4 linked regions of the Homo sapiens genome follow. The protein of the gene in region 1 interacts with the protein of each later gene in a biochemical or structural test. Each region holds a gene or a part of one and is shown in the gene's direction. Other genes may lie near its edges.

The links.
Region 2: the proteins of NFIB (region 1) and ETV7 form a complex in vitro, tested with the Homo sapiens proteins (one study listed by BioGRID).
Region 3: the proteins of NFIB (region 1) and ELK3 form a complex in vitro, tested with the Homo sapiens proteins (one study listed by BioGRID).
Region 4: the proteins of NFIB (region 1) and LHX2 form a complex in vitro, tested with the Homo sapiens proteins (one study listed by BioGRID).

What each region holds. Positions count from the first base shown.
Region 1 is NC_000009.12:14,081,318-14,087,153, reverse strand, and holds the end of NFIB (nuclear factor 1 B-type), read left to right. Parts: 3' UTR 1-5,306; downstream 5,307-5,836.
Region 2 is NC_000006.12:36,365,694-36,370,711, reverse strand, and holds the end of ETV7 (transcription factor ETV7), read left to right. Parts: intron 1-1,640; coding exon 1,641-1,783; intron 1,784-3,736; coding exon 3,737-3,837; intron 3,838-3,949; coding exon 3,950-4,067; 3' UTR 4,068-4,518; downstream 4,519-5,018. UniProt on the Homo sapiens protein: Transcriptional repressor; binds to the DNA sequence 5'-CCGGAAGT-3'. Isoform A does not seem to have a repressor activity. Isoform C does not seem to have a repressor activity.
Region 3 is NC_000012.12:96,246,334-96,253,375, forward strand, and holds part of ELK3 (ETS domain-containing protein Elk-3), read left to right. Parts: intron 1-606; coding exon 607-1,401; intron 1,402-7,042. UniProt on the Homo sapiens protein: May be a negative regulator of transcription, but can activate transcription when coexpressed with Ras, Src or Mos. Forms a ternary complex with the serum response factor and the ETS and SRF motifs of the Fos serum response element.
Region 4 is NC_000009.12:124,028,758-124,033,833, forward strand, and holds the end of LHX2 (LIM/homeobox protein Lhx2), read left to right. Parts: intron 1-3,662; coding exon 3,663-3,950; 3' UTR 3,951-4,544; downstream 4,545-5,076. UniProt on the Homo sapiens protein: Acts as a transcriptional activator. Stimulates the promoter of the alpha-glycoprotein gene. Transcriptional regulatory protein involved in the control of cell differentiation in developing lymphoid and neural cell types.

The sequences.
Region 1 (5,836 bases):
GGGTGTACAAAAGGTTCTATAAAATCTGCATTATAGAGACAAAGAGGCAGGCAAATCCATGTCACAAGGGTAAAGCTTACAGTTTACAAACTGGGAACGCCAGGGTGTAGGATATAAAAACGCACTCTTGAGAAAACAAATGTAATCAGGGTGCTGAAAACTTGCATGGTGCTTTCAGACATTAGCCTTGTTCAACAAATTTCTTGTATTGACAGATCCATAGTGTGCATGGGCAGACACATTTTGCCTCTATGTCTCTTAAAATTTTAATTAAAAATACTCTTTCCAGTAATCCTAATTTGCACGAAGATATAATGTCCACATTACGTGCCTTGCCTTGAAATCTAAAAAACAAAAAACAAAAAAAAAAAAACAAAAAAATACAACAAAGTGACATCACTACACTTGTTTTGCTGCATTTATTATCATTTTAAATCTTTACCATTTTTATGACAAAATATTTTGTACTCCAGACGAAGAAAAATGTGTGACATCATGGATTTTTTAGACAGTTATACCTTTATCTCACATTTATAAAGCATATCATGGCTGTGTATAGTTGCCGCTTAAAAATTGTAATCGACCAGCAATATTTTCAGTATTTTGGTGTTTTTTTCTATTAACCTTTCATGTTTTTCATCTTCCAATTAATATTTGGGGGGGAGGGGTTTCAAATTTATACGAATTATGCAATACCAAGTTTTGCCTATGTAGGTAGTGCTTTTAGCTGTATTGGTTATTATAGGTAAGTACACAGATTTAAAAAAAAAATAATGTATGCTTTTTTGTTTGTTTGTTTGTTTTAATTGACCAAAGTGGGTACTGCTATTTTTGCAGTGTGATGAGGTCCTTTTGTGTACTGAGAGATGGACAGGGGATTTTTTTTAATATACATATATATATATTCTGGGGTGGGTGGGAGGATTTTTAACACTTTGCAGTGTAGCTGTGAAGCAGTGCACCCTGAGATGGGCCTGGGCTGCAAAGCGACTGTTCTGCCTACTGTGACAAACTTCAACTTACACAGGTTCCCCTCTCTAACTTCCCACCTGGGTTGCAAGCTGAACTCATTACTGGTTTTCATAACAACACAATAGTAAGAACAAGCAAACACAACAAATTCTCCTGGAGGCAGACTTGGCTTAAAAAGGCAGACTTGGCTTGGTGATAGTTTTTCTTGAAAGTTCCAGATCCACAGTGGAGAGTGAGCCTGTCTCATATTTGGCAAAAATATTTGTTGAAATGTCCACATAGGGGATGTTGGATGTTTAACACTTTTGAGAGTTTAACACATGAATATTCTTTCTCCTAGAAAACACATTAGACCTGTTGGAGGGAGTCTCCCGTATTCCTTTTCTGCCACTTTTCGTCCCCATTTCATTTCATTAATGATAGGATATGATTTACCTGTGACTTACTACTTCAAATGGATGGCAGTGCACTTGGATTTTTTTTTAATATCCAGAAGATTGAACAGAGGGTTGCTATTGTTGAATGTATTTGGACTGATAGATTAAAATCAAAGTTCAATTTTTAAGGAACAAAAAAGTAAATCCTGTTTTCATTTTATCTCCCCTTTTAAAACTGAGAACCAGAGCAGAAGGGAAATATAGAATTTTAAGCAATTAATCTTCCTGTGGATGAATTAAACCCATTAGATGCTGATGGGATTTTTTTAAGGAATGGTACCTTAACTATATATTTGATTTCGTTTCCCCTGAGGGCTAGAGGCTGAATGGAGGCTGGTTTTATTTTGCCTTTCCCTCACCGCCCAGTCCCATTGAGTGTATTCATTACTAGAAGGAAAATCTTTCAGAATTGGTGACACATGGTAGGCTGTCTTAAGGAGTCCCCTGGCCCCCTTCCCCTAGGCCATGGCCTAATAAAATAAACTGTCAATTGTTCTCACAGCATATCATTTAATAATGAATACTTTAGAACAATGCTTATGGGCTGGAGAATTGTATTTGATTAGCCCATTCAGTTTGATAGCCCAAATGCTGAACAGCACAGCGGGATCCTAGCAGTGCAAGTTCAAAAGTAAGTCCAATCATTTCTGTGATACTCGCCCTGGTAGCAAACAGATCATCTCAGCCAAGCTCTTCATGTATCTTTGACCTATTAGGTGAACAAATGAACCTCACAGGACACACAGTATTTTTTAAAGGCAGACTCGCTCTCTTTTTTGCCAGTGAGCAGTTCTAGCTAACCAAGTTACACACTGTGGGTATTCCTGCCTGCCTCTTGAATACAAAGGCCTAGTTCAAGTGTTGCTTTTTTTATTTCAAATCAATTTTTTCTTCTTTCCTTTTTGAGATAAAACTATTAAAAGTACTACTATATATATAAAATCTCAAATCAACTTTTCGGCCTCCTCCTCGTGTACCAGGAAGTATATTCTGACGAAGGGCCCCACTTTTGCAGGTCTTGCACGCCCCTCCCTTACCCAGAACTGCAGAGCTTCAGGATGGCGAAGGTCACCCAAGGGCATGAGTAGGGAGTGGTGTCTCCAACCATCAGTTCCGTGGCACTGTTCAGCCTTTGTGTGCTGCCCTGCCACCCACCACTCACAGTGCCTCTGAAGCGTGTTACCCCTGGAGTGACGTGAGCATTTGAGGCTTGTCTAAGGAAAAAAATAAAAGGCAGTGAAGGAGACTGTACATAAAGACATGGCAAAAATCTTAATTATAGCAATATAGTTATCGGGTAATGTTCGGGTGGGCAGCTCCATTAAAAAATATGTGAATGAATCTGTGAAGCTGCAAGTAGCGAGAAGAGCGAAAGGTCTTCTTAATGAACCGCCTACCTTGTAGACAGTAATTTGTACACTGTATAGTTTTGTTAAGAATTTTTTTTAAATTAAAATTCCCATGTTTGTAAAGCTAACTTTTTAACAATTATAATGGAACTATATGTTGTTTCCATTTTTAAAGTAAACAAGAATATTCCTTGTTTAGAGACTGGACTTGAGTTAAAACTCTCCAGTCTCTTAAGTTATGTATTAAAAAGAAAATCTGTCCATGTTAGGAGTTATTTCACAGATTCCTGTGCTTGAAAAGCATAGGATACTAATCCTTTAAAAAAGTGTAAATGGAGAAAAGTTATATTTTATGAAGGTTATTTTGTTGTATTTAGTATTGGAAAAGTTGGTTTCCAGAGCATTTCAGAATGTCGAAGCACCACTGTCTTTTTATTAGTATATACGGCCTTTAGCAAAAGTTTTTGTGATTGTTACGTGATGGTATTTAAGGTTAAGTTTCACAGAGCATTCAGGATAGGCAGAAAACTAAAACAGTGCTATGTCTCACATAACGTGTCCTCAGGGAGCAGAATCTTGGATTTGTGACTTGTAGCTTCATAAGGACTCAACGAAAGAGATTGCACAGGGACATCTTCAGCGGTGTGACAGCAGGACATGTTCTTTACCTAGATTCAAATTCTATGTACTGTGTGAAATGATGAAGGCTGCAGAAAGTTATCCCATATTCAGTGTACAGTATTCATTTTTAATGAAACAACTCTACAATATTGCTGGCAGATAGGCCCCAAGCATGACATTCAATATAGTTTACATGTTCCTGTCAAGGTCTTTTGTTAACATTAACCAGCTGCATGCTTTCTGGACTTTAAGAAATTGGGTTTCTATAGAAAACTTTTTTTTTTTTTTTTTTTTTAATGTGCAGGCTATTCAAGTTCAATAGTAAAAGCTCAAAAATGAATGTTCTACTCCATGCTGAAGGAGCTGAAAGCTGCCTTCTTCATATTTTGCACTTTCTGGTAGTTCCCCTGTTTTTTCTAATTCCCTAAAATTGTGTGGGTGGAGTGGAGCCCTGCAGTTGGGGGGTAACATGGACCACTGATTTTGCCCTTTGACCCTGCACAATGACCTTTGCATCAGCCAAACTCATTGCCATGACAACTCTTTGTACTGTGTCCGTGCCACAGATCTGTTGGTCACATTGTTAATAGTAAAGGGGACAAGTTGGAGACGGTCAATTTTTACATTTTTTGTTGCAATTTTTTCTTCAATGGTTGTAAGTAGTTTTTTTTTTTTTTTAATAATAAAAGGGTTCACTAGTTAATACTCTAGAAATATCTGTGTGTTGCAATTCAAATGTATGTTGAGATTGTGAAAAGCGCTTCAGTGCCACTAGCTTACCGGTACACTAGACTAAGCCCTTGATGACTTATTGCATGATACAGTACCAGGAACAACAGGTGGCCTAAATACATGAAAAGCAGTGTAAGCTAGTGACACTAAAGCCAGTCTTGTATTACTGTATTTTTGACAGAATGGTTTTGAAAACTGTGCTACAGGGACTGATGTGGCAAATATATCTCTTTATGCAGAAGGAAGTCTTTTTTTTTCTTTTTTTTTTTTTTAAGAAGTATGGCTTTTTATGCATCCTTCATCGAGGGCATTGAAGTTGCATGGACTGATAAAAGTTGATGCAAAACAAGAAAGAAACAAACAAAAAAAAAAAACCAGCAAAATGTTTACCAAAAAACTCAAACAAATGAGCAGTGCCTGTTCAATTTCACAGTCTCTGTTGAGTTCAGTTGTAAATATGTTTCAAATGACATTTTCTTGGGAAAAAAAATCTCTACAACATTGTAGAATGTGAGGGGTAACTACATCCCAGGCATAGGTTTCTCAAAGCTGCAGTAGATTATGTCTTCATCAAGCTGTTAATTTGTGCTTATATCATATAGAACTTTTAGCATCCTGGGAAGAGCTGCCCCCACCTCAATGATATTTCTCTGAGAACAACTTTTGTAGGACTGTGTGTTTCTTTAGATACATTTAGTACAACTGTAGGTGACGAGTAGTCAGTTATTGCTTGCTAGCTACACACCAGGGTTGATCCATTTTAAAACTTTTGGCATTTTGTCCTCATGGGCCATAAATACAGAACCTTGTATTTTAATTAAATTTTTTTACAAAAGGAGGCACATGCACAATCTCCATGTAACAAACCTTTAGCAGTAGGATGTATTATACGACAGTTACTTAATTTCTAGAGTTCAGGCCTCTGGGATCAACCCCAGACTGGGCCAGAATGTTAGTGAAGGTTTTATTGTGCCCGGTTGGAGGATAACGTTCTTTGGGTACTTTTTGTGGGTTGCAAATGAACTCAATTGCCACAAGTTTTAAACTGGTGTAAATCAAGCTTGACTTAATGTGATTGTTACTGTTATATCCAGCCTATACTGCTAGCAGCTGCTCATACTGCAGTCAATTACTGGAAGCGGATATATTTCCTATGCAAAAACTGTTTAAACAATAAAATGAGCTATGCTACAGACTCTGGCCTCATGTTTTATTTTTCTCCTCATCGTCTCCTTGCTGTTCTGCCTACATTAATGTTGGGTCAGTAGTGTCCCAGAAATTGATCTTGGCCCTTAACTTTGGGGGTTTTGTAGCACTGATTTAATTATTAGCATCTGGGATAGTTAATATTTCAGTTCAATATTTAACCGTATATCTGTGTATATCTATATAATCCTTCCTTGCAGTTCCTAATAAATACAGTCATCCCAAGCTTTCTAAACAATGACAGTAAAAAAAAAAAAAAAGAAAGTGCAGTTATAGAATCGCAGACCTCACTCTCTGAGAAAGGCCTTTGAGCAATACGTTGAAGACGATGTGTGCCATGATGACTGGACTGTGGTCTCTGTGAGAGAAAAACCACAGGGCATCAAACACTGAACAGAAAAGGTAAGCCCCGGGGACACCCTGTGGCTGTGGGTTTAGTGGTTACATGAATACTGCAGGAGAGCAATTTCTTCCTGCAAATGCCTGAAAAGGAGCAGCATCTTGTGTTTCCAAGAAGCA
Region 2 (5,018 bases), on another chromosome or scaffold:
TGCATTTATTCTTTTTTTTTTTCAACTTTTATTTTAGGTTCAGGGGGTGCATGTGCAGGTTTGTTACATGGGTAAATTGCGTGCCACTGAGGTTTGGTGTATGAATAATCCTGTCACCAAGGTACTCAGCATAGTACTTGATAGGAAGTTTTTCTTTTCTTTTCTTTTCTTTTTTTGAGACGGGAGTCTGGCTCTTTTGCCCAGGCTGGAGAGCTGTGGCATGATCTCAACTCACTGCATCCTCTGCCTCCCGGGTTCAAGCGATTCTCCTGCCTCAGCCTCCTGGGTAGCTGGGATTACAGGCGCCCACCACCACACCTGGCTAATTTTTGTTTTATTAGTAGAGACGGTTTCACCATGTTGGCCACAGGCTGGTCTTGAACTCCTGACCTCAGGTGATCCACCCACCTCGGCCTCCTTTGGTGCTGGGATTACAGGCGTGAACCACCGTGCCGGCCTGTGATAGGTAGTTTTTTCCACCCTGGCTCTTCCCCTGTAGTGGTCCCCAGTGCCCAGTGTCTATTGTTCCCATTGTTATGTCCACACCACATTTATTCTATGAAGCCACAGAGTGGGCAGAAGCCTGGCTTTTGGGTTGGAAATGACTAGAAGTCACTAAAAAACAATTGGCCCAACACATAGAAATGATGAATACTTGAGGTGATGGATGCCCTAAGTACCCTGACTTGATCGTTACACACTCTATGCATGCAACAAGATCTCACATGGACGCCAGAAACATGCATAAATATTATGTATCAATAACAAACACAATGATCCACAATTACTGGGTTTTTTTTTTTTTAAGAGACAGGGTCTCACTCTGTTGCCAGGCTGGAGTGCAGTGATGCCACCATAGCTCACTGCTGCCTCAAATTCCTGGGCTCAAGGAATCCTCCCACTTCAGCCTCTTGCAATTACTGAATTCTTCAATTATAATGCTTAACATTCTTCGTGCACTTACAGTATACCAGGCACTGTGCTGAGGGTTTTGTGGTCTATTATGTTACCTAATTCTCTCACCACCCCATACAAGGAAGCTGGCTCAGAGAAGGTTGTGTAACTTGCCTGCAATGGCCCAGCCGACAGGCCCAGGTCCTGGGATTTCAGATCACACAGTTGCTCCCGGATGCCCACTTGCCCTCCCAATGGCATGCCTGGTTTTCCTGAGCCTCACCATTAGGGAGCTTGAAGGGGTGGATGTTATAATTAATAGAAGTCCAGGGGGCTGAGTGAGTGGGCCAGGGGCAGAGAGGGACCTGGGGTCAGGGGCCCAGCCCCTCAGCCTGTGGGCCCAGCACCTGCCCTCACATGGCTCTGATGCTGGGTGGAGCCGGTCAGACTCCCTGCTCTACCTGCCACTTAGGAGCTTGGCAACTTTAGATACCTCTGCACCTCTGAGCCCATTTCCTCACCTCTTCCTGGGGATAAAGGTAACGACTTCCCAGACTCAGGAAGACTGCCTGAGACAATGCGTGAGGAGCCCCATTAGTGGCTGTTTCTGTTGATATCATCATTTTCACCTTCCTGCTGGTGCTCCTAGGGCTCTGGCCGGGAGGCTTCCAAGAGTGCCTTTCTAACACCTGTCCTCACAGCTCCAGTAAAGCTGCGCTGCCTGCACTCCCTGTGCTAAATTGCAGACTGCCGCCTGCTGTGGGATTACGTGTATCAGCTGCTCCTTGATACCCGATATGAGCCCTACATCAAGTGGGAAGACAAGGACGCCAAGATCTTCCGAGTTGTGGATCCAAATGGGCTCGCCAGACTCTGGGGAAATCACAAGGTGAGCCTCGGCCAGCAGAATGGTCTCAACATAACCAGAAGGGGACAGAGTTGGGGGTCAGAGTGGACCCCTAGCACTATGGGACAATCCTCAGCTGATGGGGCCTTCATCAGCAGCCCCAAAAGTGACAGGATAATTTTATTTGGGGAGCTATTGAGGGACAGGCAGTTACCTCTTATGGATGGGGAATGTCTCTGAAACTGAACAATTGTGTCTTCTCATTGCTTAATCTTACCTTTGCTTAGTATTTCAGGCTTTAGAAGCATGTTTACATGAACTGCACAGTTAGGCCAGATGAGGAAGCTGCTTTCCTGCGGGGAGCTGGACAGAAACCCAGGTCTCAGGCCCAACAGGAGCATCTGATGTCAGGGCTGGAAAGGCCTGGGGATGACTGAGGCCAGCATTCCCATGATGAGGAATGCCTATACCTAAATGGGTGTCTGTAAGATGATCTTAGGTGGTTTAATATCCTCATAATTATTTTTGAATTAGGATTACAAAATGTAACTACCATGACCATCTCATGATTTACAGCAGTGATATAAGGAATGTAGCCTTTTAAAATAAATAGGTTTCTTTAAGTAAAAAAAATCTTTTAAAGAAAACTATTAACGATAATGATAATCATCGATTTATAGCCTTTCCTAAGATGTAATGTGCCTGATTGCCAGGCACTGCCCTGAGGGCTCCACTTGTACTAATTCATTTAATCCTCATACCAAGCTCGTGAAGTAGGTGTTGTCGGATGTGGAGACTGAGGCTCAGTGAGGGCTAACAACTTGCCCCAAGTTTACCCATCCCCTGCTATGTAAGAGGCAGAACAGGGAGTTGAACCCAGGCCATGTGCTGCACTATATTATACTGCTCTTAGCAGTGCTGGTGGCTGGAAGGATGCAGATGACTAAAGTTCGGGAGGACTTATTGGTCTAATCCTCATATAGAACAGGGAGGAAAACAGGCCCAGAGAGCAGCAGTCCCATTTAATGAGCATATACTACATGCCATACACTGTGCTAACTGCTTTCATGGATTAGCTATTAATAATTTAATCCTTGACTTATGCGATGGGTGTTCTCCTTTTCATTATGTAGCTGGGGAAGCAGACTCAGAGAGGTCAAGAAACTTGTCCAAGGTGACACAGCTGACAAGCGGTGGAGCTGGGGCTTAAATTGATGCCACACCCCAGGCTCTTTGGCCCTACCTCACACTGCCTACCCCCGAGAGAGAAAGAAATGACTTGGCCAAAGTCACCCAGGGTGTGGCCTGGCAAGGCCATCCATGCCACCCCACCATACTGTCTCTCTGATTGCATTTCCCACAAATATATATATTTATTTGTTACTGTTGTGACATTTGCTGTTTAAAAGTAACATGCAGTTCACTCCCACACTATGTTCTCAGCCAAGTAGGCAGGAGAACCTTTCCATCATTTCCTTCCTTCCTTCCTTCCTTTCGCCTTCCTTCCTTCCTTCCTTTCTTTCTTTTTGTAATGGAGTCTCAATCTTTTGCCCAGGCTGTAGTCTAGTGACATGACCTCGGCTCACTGCAACCTCTGCCTCCTGGGTTCAAGGGATTCTCCTGCCTCAGCCTCCTGAGTAGTTGGGACTACAGGCACGCACCATCACGCCTGGCTAATTTTTGTATTTTTAGTAGAGACAGGGTTTCACCATGTTGGCCAGGCTGGTCTCAAACTCCTGACCTCAAGCGATCTGCCCACCTAGGCCTCCCAAAGTGTTGGGATTACAGGTGTGAGCCACCCTGCCCAGCCCCATCATTTCTTCCCCAACCTTCCCCTGCCTTTTTCCTTCCAAACTCAAGTGAGCACTCATAAACCCTCACAGATCCCTGGAATGAGAGGCTTAAGAAGCTGTCCAGTCCACCCTACTCCCTTCCAGGTGTGGAAGGAGCAGGACATGGGGAGTGGGGCTGATGTGGGGCTGCTTTGCTTTCCAGAACCGGGTGAACATGACCTACGAGAAGATGTCTCGTGCCCTGCGCCACTATTATAAGCTTAATATCATTAAGAAGGAACCGGGGCAGAAACTCCTGTTCAGGTGAGTGGCCTAGGGGATGTGGTGAAAGGGGAAGCAGAACTGGGGTTGGGTGGGCTGGAATCCCCCTGCAGCTGGGGCAGGAGCTGATTTGCAGTTGGGGCCTGAATTCTAGATTTCTAAAGACTCCGGGAAAGATGGTCCAGGACAAGCACAGCCACCTGGAGCCGCTGGAGAGCCAGGAGCAGGACAGAATAGAGTTCAAGGACAAGAGGCCAGAAATCTCTCCGTGAGGGGCAGGTGGACTCCAGGCACCCGGTACCGATGGGGCAGGGACCGAGTCTCCCATGAAGGCAGACTCCTCCTCCCAGCAGAGCAGCAGGATCCCCAGCCAGACTCTGTACCCACAGGATTACAGCCATTGCTTGGGAAGGCTGGGAGGCCTCCCATCCAGGACACTGGGGGCAGGAGTGTCATCTTTTGGGCAGGGCAATCCTGGGGCTAAATGAGGTACAGGGGAATGGACTCTCCCCTACTGCACCCCTGGGAGAGGAAGCCAGGCACCGATAGAGCACCCAGCCCCACCCCTGTAAATGGAATTTACCAGATGAAGGGAATGAAGTCCCTCACTGAGCCTCAGATTTCCTCACCTGTGAAATGGGCTGAGGCAGGAAATGGGAAAAAGTGTTAGTGCTTCCAGGCGGCACTGACAGCCTCAGTAACAATAAAAACAATGGTAGCTGATGTTTCTTTCTTTTATTTTTTTGAGACAGTCTTGCGCTGTCACCCAGGGTGGAGTGCAGTGGCACGATCTCGGCTCACTGCAACTTCCGCCTCCTGGGTTCAAGAGATTCTCGTGCCTCAGCCTCCGGAGTAGCTGGGATTACAGCTGCCCACCACCACACCCGGCTAATTTTTGTATTTTTGGTAGAGACACAGGGTTTCACCATGTTGGCCAGGCTGGTATCGAACTTGCGACCTCAGGTGATCCTCTTGCCTCAGTTTCCCAAAGTGCTTGGATTACAGGCGTGAGCCACTGCGTCCAGCCGATGTTTCTTAAGTGTTTGCTATGTGCCAGGCCTTGTGCTAAGGGCCTTGTGGATATCTTATCTCATTTAATTCACTCGGCATTCAGGCGTGAAGATGAGGACACTGAGGGAGAGGCTTGTGGAGCTGGCCCGCCTCTCCACAACCCAGGGCTTCGACCTGTTTTCTTTCAGCACCTCTGACTGTATGTGGATGCT
Region 3 (7,042 bases), on another chromosome or scaffold:
AGATATGAATAATCCCATCCACATAGTAAAGGCTTCATAAATGGCAGCTGTTACTATGTTATTACATAGAATAATCCTCACTCGGCCAAGGTTGGGGGATTGCTTGAGTCCAGGAGTTTGAGACCAGCCTGAGCAACCAAGTGAGATGCTGTCTCCACAAAAAATAAAAATGTAAAAATTAGCAGGGTGTGGTGGCATGTACCTGTAGTCCCAGCCACTCAGGAGGTGGAGGCAGGAGGATTGCTTGAGTCCAGGAGGTTGAGGCTGCAGTGAGCCATGTTCGTGCCACTGCACTCCAGCCTGTGCGACAGAGTGAGACCCTGTCTAAGAAATCATCATCATCATCATCATCTTCCTTACTTTACAGACGAGGAAACTCAAAGTGGCACTTAATTTGCCAAAGATCACAAAGATCTAGTAATGGCAGAACTGGAATGCACATCTAATTCTACTTCCAACTTCATTCCTCCTTCCACTTTTCCTTAGCCAAGAATGTAAATCAGGAACATTTTGGTGCTTCTGCCAGCGACATTTACCATTATCATGAGCTCTTACATGGTTTCTCGGGTGCACTCAGATTTTCAACGTCTACTTTTGTATTTGCAGAACATCATCAAGAAGGTGATCGGGCAGAAGTTTGTGTACAAGTTTGTCTCTTTCCCGGAGATCCTGAAGATGGATCCTCACGCGGTGGAGATCAGCCGGGAGAGCCTTCTGCTGCAGGACAGCGACTGCAAGGCGTCTCCGGAGGGCCGCGAGGCCCACAAACACGGCCTGGCCGCCCTCAGAAGCACGAGCCGCAACGAATACATCCACTCAGGCCTGTACTCGTCCTTCACCATTAATTCCCTGCAGAACCCACCAGACGCCTTCAAGGCCATCAAGACGGAGAAGCTGGAGGAGCCGCCCGAAGACAGCCCCCCCGTGGAAGAAGTCAGGACTGTGATCAGGTTTGTGACCAATAAAACCGACAAGCACGTCACCAGGCCGGTGGTGTCCCTGCCTTCCACGTCAGAGGCTGCGGCGGCGTCCGCCTTCCTGGCCTCGTCCGTCTCGGCCAAGATCTCCTCTTTAATGTTGCCAAACGCTGCCAGTATTTCATCCGCCTCACCCTTCTCATCTCGGTCCCCGTCCCTGTCCCCCAACTCACCCCTCCCTTCTGAACACAGAAGCCTCTTCCTGGAGGCCGCCTGCCATGACTCCGATTCCCTGGAGCCCTTGAACCTGTCATCGGGCTCCAAGACCAAGTCTCCATCTCTTCCCCCAAAGGCCAAAAAACCCAAAGGCTTGGAAATCTCAGCGCCCCCGCTGGTGCTCTCCGGCACCGACATCGGCTCCATCGCCCTCAACAGCCCAGCCCTCCCCTCGGGATCCCTCACCCCAGCCTTCTTCACCGCACAGGTAAGAGTCATTCCTGTCATCTAAGCCACAGCCAGCTTCAGTGGCTTAGCAAAAAAGGAAGAGCAACTAAAGAGACTTCCTTCTGTCCCTCAAAACGTTGTCCTATGACTCGTACCGAGGTCACTGTGTAAATGTGAAGGGAAGCTGCTTTTCCATCCTCAGACCAAGGGGTGCACATGAGACAGGGTTTGGTTTGTCGACTCTAGTGGGATGCTTGATTGGTTTCTTGCTTTTAGCGGCCTAAAGTGACCATAGGTGGAACACGCACACTGGCCGACAAAGCAGATCTCACCAGCGATTTCCAAGGGAAAGTTGAGCGGGCCAGTTTACATTTCGGGAGGCGCTTGGGCTTTATGAAATTTTTATGGCAGAATCTTCTCTGGGGGCGCTTAATAAGGAGCCACTTGTGTTCTGTTAACAAGAAAATAGATGTCAACTGATGCCGCCATCGCATGTCAGTGTGGAGCTGTGGTCATAGCGTAGGTAATAAGAAACAAAGGGGCCACCCCAAACAGCTGCTTCGCTGAAAGCAGCACTACTCTGAGAAAGCCCCAGTCCACAGCACTGGCGAGAGGACAGCAAACTTGCAGAGCCAAAAAAGCCTTCGTTGTTATTAGTCCCAAAGAGAAAGCAGCCTTTTCCTTTAAATCAGATATTCAGATGCTCTTTCTTGTCCAGCTGACAATTGCAGTGCAAAGGCGTAGTAGGTGCTGGGAAACCATATTTCTCCTTCCCCTTGAAAATTGGATGCAATTTTAGTGGCAGAGGTTAAAAGAGTATTCGTTTTAGGTTCACAGACCTGCATTCAGTTCCTGGCTACCCTGCTTCCTAGGAGTGGGACTGTGGGCGGTTGCTCTCTGGGCCAGGTTCCATGTGTGGAAAATGGGACCATGGACAGGCTTTGTGAGCTGGGGACACCTGGTAGCATTGTTAACCGTGGAGCTGCACCCGTCCCCTGCCTCTGTAATCTCATCGTAGTTGTCCCTGTTGTCATTAGCAGCAGCCGCGGCAGCATATGACGGGCTCCCCACGTGTGCCAGGCACTGCTCCAGATGCTTTACATGCATTGCCTGTATCCACACTTACAGCAGCCCTGTCACGTGGATACAGGTTGAGCATCCTGTTTCCAAAATGCTTGTGACCAGAAGCATTTCAGAGTTCAGATGTTTTCAGATTTTGGAATATTTGCATGATACTTGCCAGTTGAATATCCCACATCTGAAAATCTGAAATCCAAAATGTTGCAATGAGCATTTCCTTGGAGTGTCATGTCAGGACTCAGAAAGTTTCAGATTCTGGAGGATTTGGGATTTGGGAATTTTTGGATTTGGGATGCTGAGCCTGTGCTATTATTATCATCCTGTTTCCCAGCTGAGATAAATGAGGCACAGAGGTAAAGTAGTTCGTCCAGGGTCCCACAGCCAATAGGTGGTAGAGGTGGCTTTGGATCCAGTGTCTGCCTCCAGAATCCATGCTCTCAAATGAAATGCATTCCCGCTGCGAGAAGGCAGTGTCCCTGATCACGATGGCCGTCCATGGAGCACCTGAAAGCAGCTCTGGGCCACTGTCCTCTCCACGCTTTCTCTGGACTGGATTCTGCCCAGGATTTCATGACAGCTCAAGCCTGTGAGCTGGTGGTGACGCGCGCCACTGCGGAGGGGGAGGGCCAGGGGATCAGGATATAGGTCAGAGTGAGCACGTGTGCTCTTAAATCAGGCATCTTCCAGTTAAGCAAGGCTGTCCAGTGACCAAGGGCTGCTGAGCAAATGGCTCAGAAACAGCAGCTCCTGATGTAGCTCAGGGGAGTATCTTGAGAGGCAGGGCCAGGGTAGATGATCTGAGCATCTCCTCCCCTGGCCTCCTGTGTGTTTACAACTGTCAGGGTGAGAAAGGTCCGAAGCCAGGCCAGGGCTGACTCTGATTTAGGTGTCTGTGTTCCCTGGGAGCCTGGATCACCTTCTCAGAACAGAGTGAGGCAGATGCCAGCCCTGTCTCAGAGGAAGTCAGCTCAGCCAGCCCTGTGGATAATGTGGATGGAGTGGTGGCTCCCATCGGTGGGGCTGAGGGCGTGAGAGAAGGATCAAGGGTGGATGCCCAACAAATGGATGCAGAGGGCACGACCAGGAGCCAGAAGCCACCAGCATGGCCTGAAACTAGGTGGGAAGGCGTAGGAAAGCCAGGATCTTTACAAGAGGACCTGTGCCTTAGGCAGTGAGGGTGCCTGGTCCTCAGCCAAGCTGTGAGGGTGGGGCTGTGATGATTTAGTGCCAGGAAGCCCAGAAATGGTCCTGAGGGGAGGGAGGCAACAGGCAGCATCTGGACCCAGGGCAGGAGAGTGGAAGTAAAGGGACCTGGCTCAGAGAGGGCCTTCGGGTCAAAGGAGGAGGAGGGGCACCAGGCAGTCCTCTAAACCACGCAAAACTAAGGGGGTCACCAGCTACACTGGGAGATGGTAGAGCCTCGGGACTCAGACCCCACTTTGAACTTCCCTCACATTCCCAGAGTGTGGGCTCTGCTCCTGGCATGGCCATGGGTGGCCAACAGGGAGGGAGAGAAGGGGCAATGAGGGAGACACCAGAGGGGCCCGGGTGGTAGTCAGGGGTGTGGTACTTATTCAGAGTTGAGTTCTTGCAGCCGGTTTCACCCAGGCGGATTCCCTGAGATCAGATAGGATATCTTGAAGCCAGGGGTGGTTTAGGATTAGGGTATGTCAGTGTCAGATTTGGACTCTCAGATTCCCTCCCCTGGGAGCTGCTTCAGGGGGTGCCCCAGAAACTCACCCACCAGCACCAGCTCAGTAGTTTGTCTTCCAGGTGACAGCCAGAAACAGCGTGGCTCTCAACAGCCAGGCATTCTGTGGAATTCCTTTCGGCCTCAGGAGTGAAGGACAACTGTGGGGTTCAGGGTGTTCCACAGGCAGCAGTGAGGCTTCAGTGGTTTTCCTCTTACCTGAGCACTTTGTCACAGAAACTCTCCTTTTCTCTGTGTGTGGGGGGTGTGCTGTGTGCAGTGTGATGCTGTGTGCACATAAACATTTGATAATCTGTGGGCTGTCAGCTTTGCTTAGTGGTGGGCTTTGGAAGAGGTGAAAGCTGTGTGTGCTGTAATAACCCGATACCCTGAAGGTACAAATTCCGAAGGTTGGTTATTTCCAGCTAGAATCATGGCAGGAAGAAGGGGAGAAGTAAGGGAGCCTTGGCATGGCCTGTGTCACGTGGTTACCTTATCACACCTCATACAGGCATCCCTCATTTTACTGTACTTTGCTTTATTACGTTTCACAATTAATTGGTGGTTTTTACAAATCGAAGGTTTGTGGCAACCTGGCGCTGAGCAAGTCTTGTCAGCGCCAGTCTGTTCTTCCAACAGCACACACTCACTCCGTGTTTCAATGTCACATTTTGGTAATTCTCAAACATTTCCAACTTTTTCCTTACTATTATGTCTGTTATAGTGCTCTGAGATCAGCGAGCTTTGATACTACTATTGTCATTGTTTTGGGGCACCATGAACCACACCTGTATAAGACAGCAAACTTGATCAGTGTTGTGTGTGTCCCAACTGCTCTCCTGTGTCAAACTTGATCAGTGTTGTGTGTGTCCCAACTGCTCTCCTGTGTCTCCCTCTCCTTGGGTCTCCCTATTCCCTGAAACACAACAATTTTGAAATTAGGCCAATTGATAACCCTATAGTGGCCTATAAAGTGTTCAAGAGAAAGGAAGAGCTGCGCATCTCTCATTTTAAATCCAAAGCTAGAATGATGACGGTGAAGGCATGTCCAAAACCGAGACAGGCCTAAAGCTAGGGGGCTCTTATACCAGTTAAGTATGTAAATGTAAAGGAAGAGTTCCTGAAGGAAATGAAAGTGCTACGTCAGTGAAAACATGAATGATAAGAAAGTGGGACATCCTGATTGTTGATATGGAGAAAGTTTTAGTGGTCTGGATAGAAGATCAAACCAGCCACAACATTCCTTTCAGGCTAACCCAGAGCAAGGCCCTAACTCTTCAATTCTTTGAATGCTGAGAGAGGCGAAGAAGCTGCAGAAGAAAAGTGTGAAGCTAGCAGAGGTTGGTTCATGAGGTTTAAAGAAAAAAGCCATCTCCATAACATAAAAGTGCAAGGTGAAGCAGCGAGTGCTAATGGAGAAGCTGCAGTAAGCTGTCCAGAAGATCTAGCTACGCTCATTGATGAAGGTGGCTACGTCAAACAGCTTCACTGTAGGTGAAACGGCCTTCTACTGGAAGAAGATGCCATCTAGGACTTTCATAGCTGGAGAAGAGAAGTCCATGCCTGGCTTCAGAGCTTCAAAGGACAGGCTGAGTCTTGTTAGTACAGCTTGTGACTTTAAGTTGAAGCCAGTGCTACTAAATACACTCTGCCTGTGCTCTGTAAATGGAACAACAAAGTCTGGACGACAGCACATCTGTTTTCACAGTTTATGGAATAGTTTAAGCCCAGGTGAGACCTACTACTCAGAAAAAAGATTCCTTTCAAAATATTACTGCTCATTACAGTGCATCTGGTTACCCAAGAGCTCTCATGGAGATATACAAGAAGATTAATATTTTTCATGCCTGCAAATACAACATCCATTCTACAACCCAGAAGTCAAGGAGTAATTTTGACTTTCAAGTCTTATTACTTAATAAATACATTTCATAAAGCTACAGCTGCCATAGATAGTGATTCCTCTGATGGATCTGGGCAAAGTCAATTGAAAACCTTCTGGAAAGGAGTCACCATCCTAGATGCTATTAAGAATATTCATGATTCATGGGAGGAGGTCAAAATATCAACATTAACAGGAGTTTGGAAGAAACTGATTCCAGCCCTCATGGATCACTTTGAAGGGTTCAAGACTTCATTGGAGGAGGGAACTGCAGATGTGGTAGAAATAGCAAGAGAACTAGCATTAGAAGTGGAGCCTGGAGATGCAACCAAATTGCTGCAATTTATTGATCAAACTTGATTGGGTGAGTAGTTGCTTCTCACAGATGAGCAGAGAAAGTGGTTTCTTGAGATAGAATCTACTCCTGTTGAAGACGCTGTGAATATTGTTGAAATGACAACAAAGGACTGAGAATATTACATAACTTTACATTACATTACTTAGTTGATAAAGCAGCGGCAGGGTTTGAGAGGATTGACTCCAATTTTGAAAGAAGTTCTACTCTGGGTAAAATGCTATCAAACAGCATCACATGCCATAGAGAAATCTTTCATGAAAGGAATAATCAATTGGGCCAGGTGCGCTGGCTCACGCCTGTAATCGCAGCACTTTGGGAGGCCAAGGCGGGTGGATCACCTGAGGTCAGGAGTTCAAGACCAGCCTGGCCAACATGGCAAAACCCCGTCTCTACTAAAAGTACAAAAATTAGCCAGGTTTGGTGGCAGATGCCTGTAATCCCACTACTTGGGAGCCTGAGGCAGGAGAATCACTTGAACCTGGGAGGTGGAGGTTGTGATGAGCCGAGATCACGCCACCGCACTCCAGCCTGGACAACAAGAGCGAAACTCGCATCTCACCAAAAAAATAAATAAATAAATAAAAGAGTCAATCAATGTGGCAAACTTCATTATTGTCTTATTTTAAGAAACTGCCACAGCCACCCCAGTCTTCATGACTCTGCCTCCTTGT
Region 4 (5,076 bases), about 110 Mb from region 1:
CTCTGTGTGACCTTTGGCAAGTGGTTTTACCACTCTGACCCTCTCTGGTTTTTAAATCTATACAGTGAGGGCAGGCACGGTGGCTCATGCCTATAATCCCAGAACTTTGGGAGGCCAAGGTGGGCGGATCACCTGAGGTCAGGAGTTCAAGACCAGCCTGGCCAACATGGTGAAACTCCGTCTGTACTAAAAATACAAAAAAATTAGCCAGGCATGGTGGCGGGTGCCTGTAATCCCAGCCACTCAGGAGATTGAGGCAGGAGAGAATCACTTGAACCTGGGAGGCAGAGGTTGAAATGAGCTGAGATCGTGCCACTGCACTCCAGCCTGGGTGACAGAGCAAGACTCTGTCTCAAAAAATAATAATAATAATAATAATAGTCAATAAATAAATCTATAAAATGGGAATAATAATAGTCGAATCCACCTACTTGGCTTTTCATGGGAATAACCTGTGGCAGTGCATGCTGGAGGGTGGCATGGAGCCTGGCACATAGTAAAAGGTACATACATGTCAGCCATTCCTATGAATACATATTACTGATTCTTAATCTCTGCCAGTCTCTGCCATGCACCGGGGGACATGAAGATAGCATAGAAAGGGTCCCTGCTCCCATCAAACTCTCAGGAGTGGACTTTTTGAAATACCTGGGAGAGAATTCTAGTGAAGCCCTGACAACATGAAGAACAAACCCCACACAACCCCAGAGCAGCCGGGCTTTTAATGAAGTTGTTGAATTTTCATCTACCAGATTCCCAGTGCCTCAGCTCTGGAAAGCAGAGAAGGTAGTTGTGGACGATGGTGTCATTGTTTACAAGCCCACTGTTAGGGGCAACAGCCTGAGAAATAGCAAACAGCCGGCAACTAACCGGGTCCAGCCCTGCCCGAGGTCTTGGAGCCCCGGATGGATGAGCAAATGAGCACCCGGCAAAGCACCCTCAAACCCTCGACCCAGGCTCCCCGCTCCAGCTACTGCTCTGAGAGTCAGACGCACAGAGCACAGGCTGCTCAGGGGTCACACGCACACAGGCCAGGACAGTGGCAAGGCAGCGGCACCAAGGCTCCGGCCTTCTCCACCCCAATCTGCATGACTTTGGGGAAGTCACTTCCTCTCTCTGAGGGCCTCTGGGGGCTTCCCCATCCATTTTCTTTAGGCCACCAGGACACAGTCTCTCCCCTACAGATTTCTGCTGGCCGGGAAAGGGAAGGACCCCCCCACCCCAGGGAAAGCATGTCAAGGGTGGTCTGAGAAGCACTGTACTTATTTGCCAGCCCCCAGAAGGGGTGATGGGCTTTCTTTGGGCGGAGAGCCAGGGAAAATGTGCCTTCTTCCTGGGAAGATCCAGCACTGAGGAGGGAGCTTGGTTTCTCCACTTCACAGGGTCTGGATCTCCCACTTTACTCCAAGATTCTTGTGGATTTGCTTTTAATTGAGCCCAAATTGTGTTACGCCACCAGAAACGGGGGTTTGAGGCCACAGGCCCCTGCAGCCGGGGTGGTCCCAAGGGGTGCGTGGGGCCAGGAGTCAGCCCTCCCTCTCCTGCCAGAGACACTGGGAAGACAGGCAGATGCAGGACATCTGGAAATGCGCAACTGGACACCCCAGAATCTGCAGAGTGCCCTGAGGCCCTTTGTTTTATGGGGAGGCTTCTGGCGGGTGTTTTCCTCACGCAAAGGGAAGTGAAGGGGCCCTGCCTTTCAGGACTTTTTCCTTGGAAGGTTCAACCCCCCCAGAGTGGCCTGGATTTCCTAAGCCCCTCCCAAAGTACTTCGTGGACCTCTGGGTACAGCGGGTCCCTGTGTTTGTGCTGTTAGATGGGTGGTGGTACTTAGGTGCTGGCTGTGTAGATGAATTTCATTTTTCTTTTCTTTTTTTTTTTTTTTTTTTTTTGAGATGGAGTCTTGCTCTGTGGCCCAGGCTGGAGTGCAGTGGTGGGATCTTGGCTCACTGTATCCTCCGCCTCCCGGGTTCAAGCAGTTCTTCTGTCTCAGCCTCCCGAGTAGCTGAGGTTACAGGAGCGCACCATCACACCCAGCTAATTTTTTATATTTTTAGTAGAGATGGGGTTTCACCATGTTGGACAGGCTGGTCTCGAACTGCTGACCTCAAGTGATCCACCTGCCTCGGCCTCCCAAAGTGCTGGGATTACGGGCTTGAGCCACTGTGCCCGTCCTTAGATGAATTTCTGTGTGTCTTCCTGAATGCTTACAGGCGTGTGTGCAAAGATATGGGAGTGGACGCGTGTGTGTCTGTGCCCAAGGAAAAATGAAAGTAAACCCATGTTCTCTCACTGACATTCTTTTCAGACAGAGCTCAGCCCCAGCTCTGCGCCCCGCCGCACGTCCCTCATAAGTCGATACGGGATGCAGCAGGTCGGGAGAGAGACTCTGCGGGTTTCAACTTCCCTGGCCTCACTTTAATTTGGCTGCCGTTCCCACGCTGCCTACCTCCACCCACCTCCACCCTGAGACCTGACACCCAGTGGCCCAGGGTACCTGGTGGCTCCCCCAACCGATGATGGGGATAGGTTCCGTGTCTTTCACTTCCTCTTAGTAACTCATTATTATTGCCTGATTCTCATGTGTTCTTTATCGCATTCCCAGACTTACTGACCACAAAACATTTAAAACATTTTACCAACAAGAACTTGTGGGGTTTATTGTCTGCTGAAAGGCAACTGCCAAAAAAGGAAAAAGAAAAAAAAAAAAGGAATGTCTCAAAGAACCATTAGGAAAAGGATCAAGATTTGTCTGGTGTGTGTGTTTGGTGTGTCTGATAGAAATGCAACATGAGGCACACATTTAATTTTAAGTTTTAAATGTCCTAGTAGCCTCCTTGAAGAAATGAAGAGAGACAAGTAAAAGTAAAATTAATTTTAATAATGTATTTTGCTTAACTCAGTATAGCCAAACTATTAATCATTTCGACATGTAATCAATATAAAAATTATTGAGATATTCTACCTGCTTTTTTTTTCATATTCAGCCTTCAGATAGGTTGTGTGTTTTCACCTGCAGACTGGTTGAATTTGGGCTAATGCCATTTTAAGTGCTCAGCAGCCATACGTGGCTCGTGGCTGTGATATTCGGGAGTACAGCTCAGCTCTGGAACCACCTATCAGAAAGAGAAGCCCAGCCGTAGCCCATTAGATAGAGTGAAATTTTTGTTTTATTTTATTAAGAGCAAAATATTGGCCAGGTGCAGTGGCTCACATCTGTAATCCCAACGCTTTAGGAGGCTGAGGCAGGAGGGATCACTTGAAGCCTGGAGTTTGAGACCAGCCTGGTCAACATTGCAAGACCCCGTCTCTACAAAAAATAACTTAAAAAGTTAGCGGGGCCGGTGGTGCTCACCTATCTATAGCCCCAGCTACCCAGGAGGCTGAGGCGGGAGGATCGCTTGATCCCAGGAGTTAGAAGCTGCAGTGAGTCGAGATTGTGTCACTGCACTTCAGCCTGGGGGACCAAGCCAGACCCTGTCTGCAAACAAAAACAAAAACAAAAAAACCAAAAAAGCAAAATATTGCCAACCTGACTTTTTGGATCCTCTTGGCAAAACACAGATCAGCGTCCCCAGAGGCAGCAGAGCTCTGAGTGAAGCAGTCGGGGGGATGCTCTGCCTGCCTTCCGCTCACCAGCCCTTCCCTGTCGTCCCCCGCAGGTCTGGTTCCAGAACGCCCGAGCCAAGTTCAGGCGCAACCTCTTACGGCAGGAAAACACGGGCGTGGACAAGTCGACAGACGCGGCGCTGCAGACAGGGACGCCATCGGGCCCGGCCTCGGAGCTCTCCAACGCCTCGCTCAGCCCCTCCAGCACGCCCACCACCCTGACAGACTTGACTAGCCCCACCCTGCCAACTGTGACGTCCGTCTTAACTTCTGTGCCTGGCAACCTGGAGGGCCATGAGCCTCACAGCCCCTCACAAACGACTCTTACCAACCTTTTCTAATGACTCGCAACCCCTCACCCCACAATTTCTTTAAAAAAGAAATTATCTTTAGTTGAATTCCAAGTGTATTTTAAAATAGAGGCTTTGAGCAACTAACTAACCACATTTTAGGATCTCGCCTGGAAACAGAGGTAAAAAAAAGAAGTGTGCGCCCGGCTAATGCAGCGGTGTGGACCGAGGAACAACTTGGAAGATCTACCTGCAACACAACATTTGTGTCACTGTACAGTTTTGTGGACTGAGCGAGGAAAAACAACAAATAATTTAAGTTGGCTAGAGCTTCTGTATTTTCAAAGACTGCCACGTGCCTTAGGAATACTGTTTTATCTCCATACTTTGGATGACTTGTTCATTTTTCTCTCCCTCTTTTTCTCTGTATATTTATGACCAGAGCAAAAATGTAAAAAACAAAAAAAACAACAAAAAAAGTTTGTTACTTTGAATAGTCCTAAAAAGAAAAAAAGAAAAAAAAAAAAGGAAAAATCAAACCCCCTCCAACGGTCGCTTTGTTGTTTTAGAATTTTAAGGTGGAAGTCTGTTCGAATATCAGAATTTGTAAAATCTAACCAGTAATAAAACCACTTATTGAAACTACTTGGGGCTGCTGCCATTTGGTTGGGTGTGAAATTGACAGGACCTAAGAGTTTTACTGAGGCCCAGAGATCAATTCTAGGTCTTCACATATTCATCAGATATTCCTGGGGCTCCTGTCTTGTGCCAGGCTTTGGACGGATTACAGAGATGCCGAGACAAAGATCCAATTCCTGCTCTCAAGGAATCAGAATGGTGACACGGGACAGACAAAAGATATCTTAACAGGGTGTGATATGTGCTCAAGTGGAGGATATGCAACATCCCATTCATTCATTCATTCATTATTCATTCATTCATTCTTTCAAATATTTAATGAGCACACCCTGCCAGATGCTTGTGATGCAGAGGTCAGAGGCCCTTTTCTGCTCCTGGCTGGGCTGGAAAGAAGGCATGTCAGGCGATGAGGGAGGCCTCCTGAAAAACCTGCAGCTTTTCCCTACGAGGAGTGAACGCAGTTAACAAAGGGCAGCTTAAGCTCCAGTTTTCCTAATGACACAAAATTTCAAGATCGCTAGAGAGGGCAAAAGCAAAT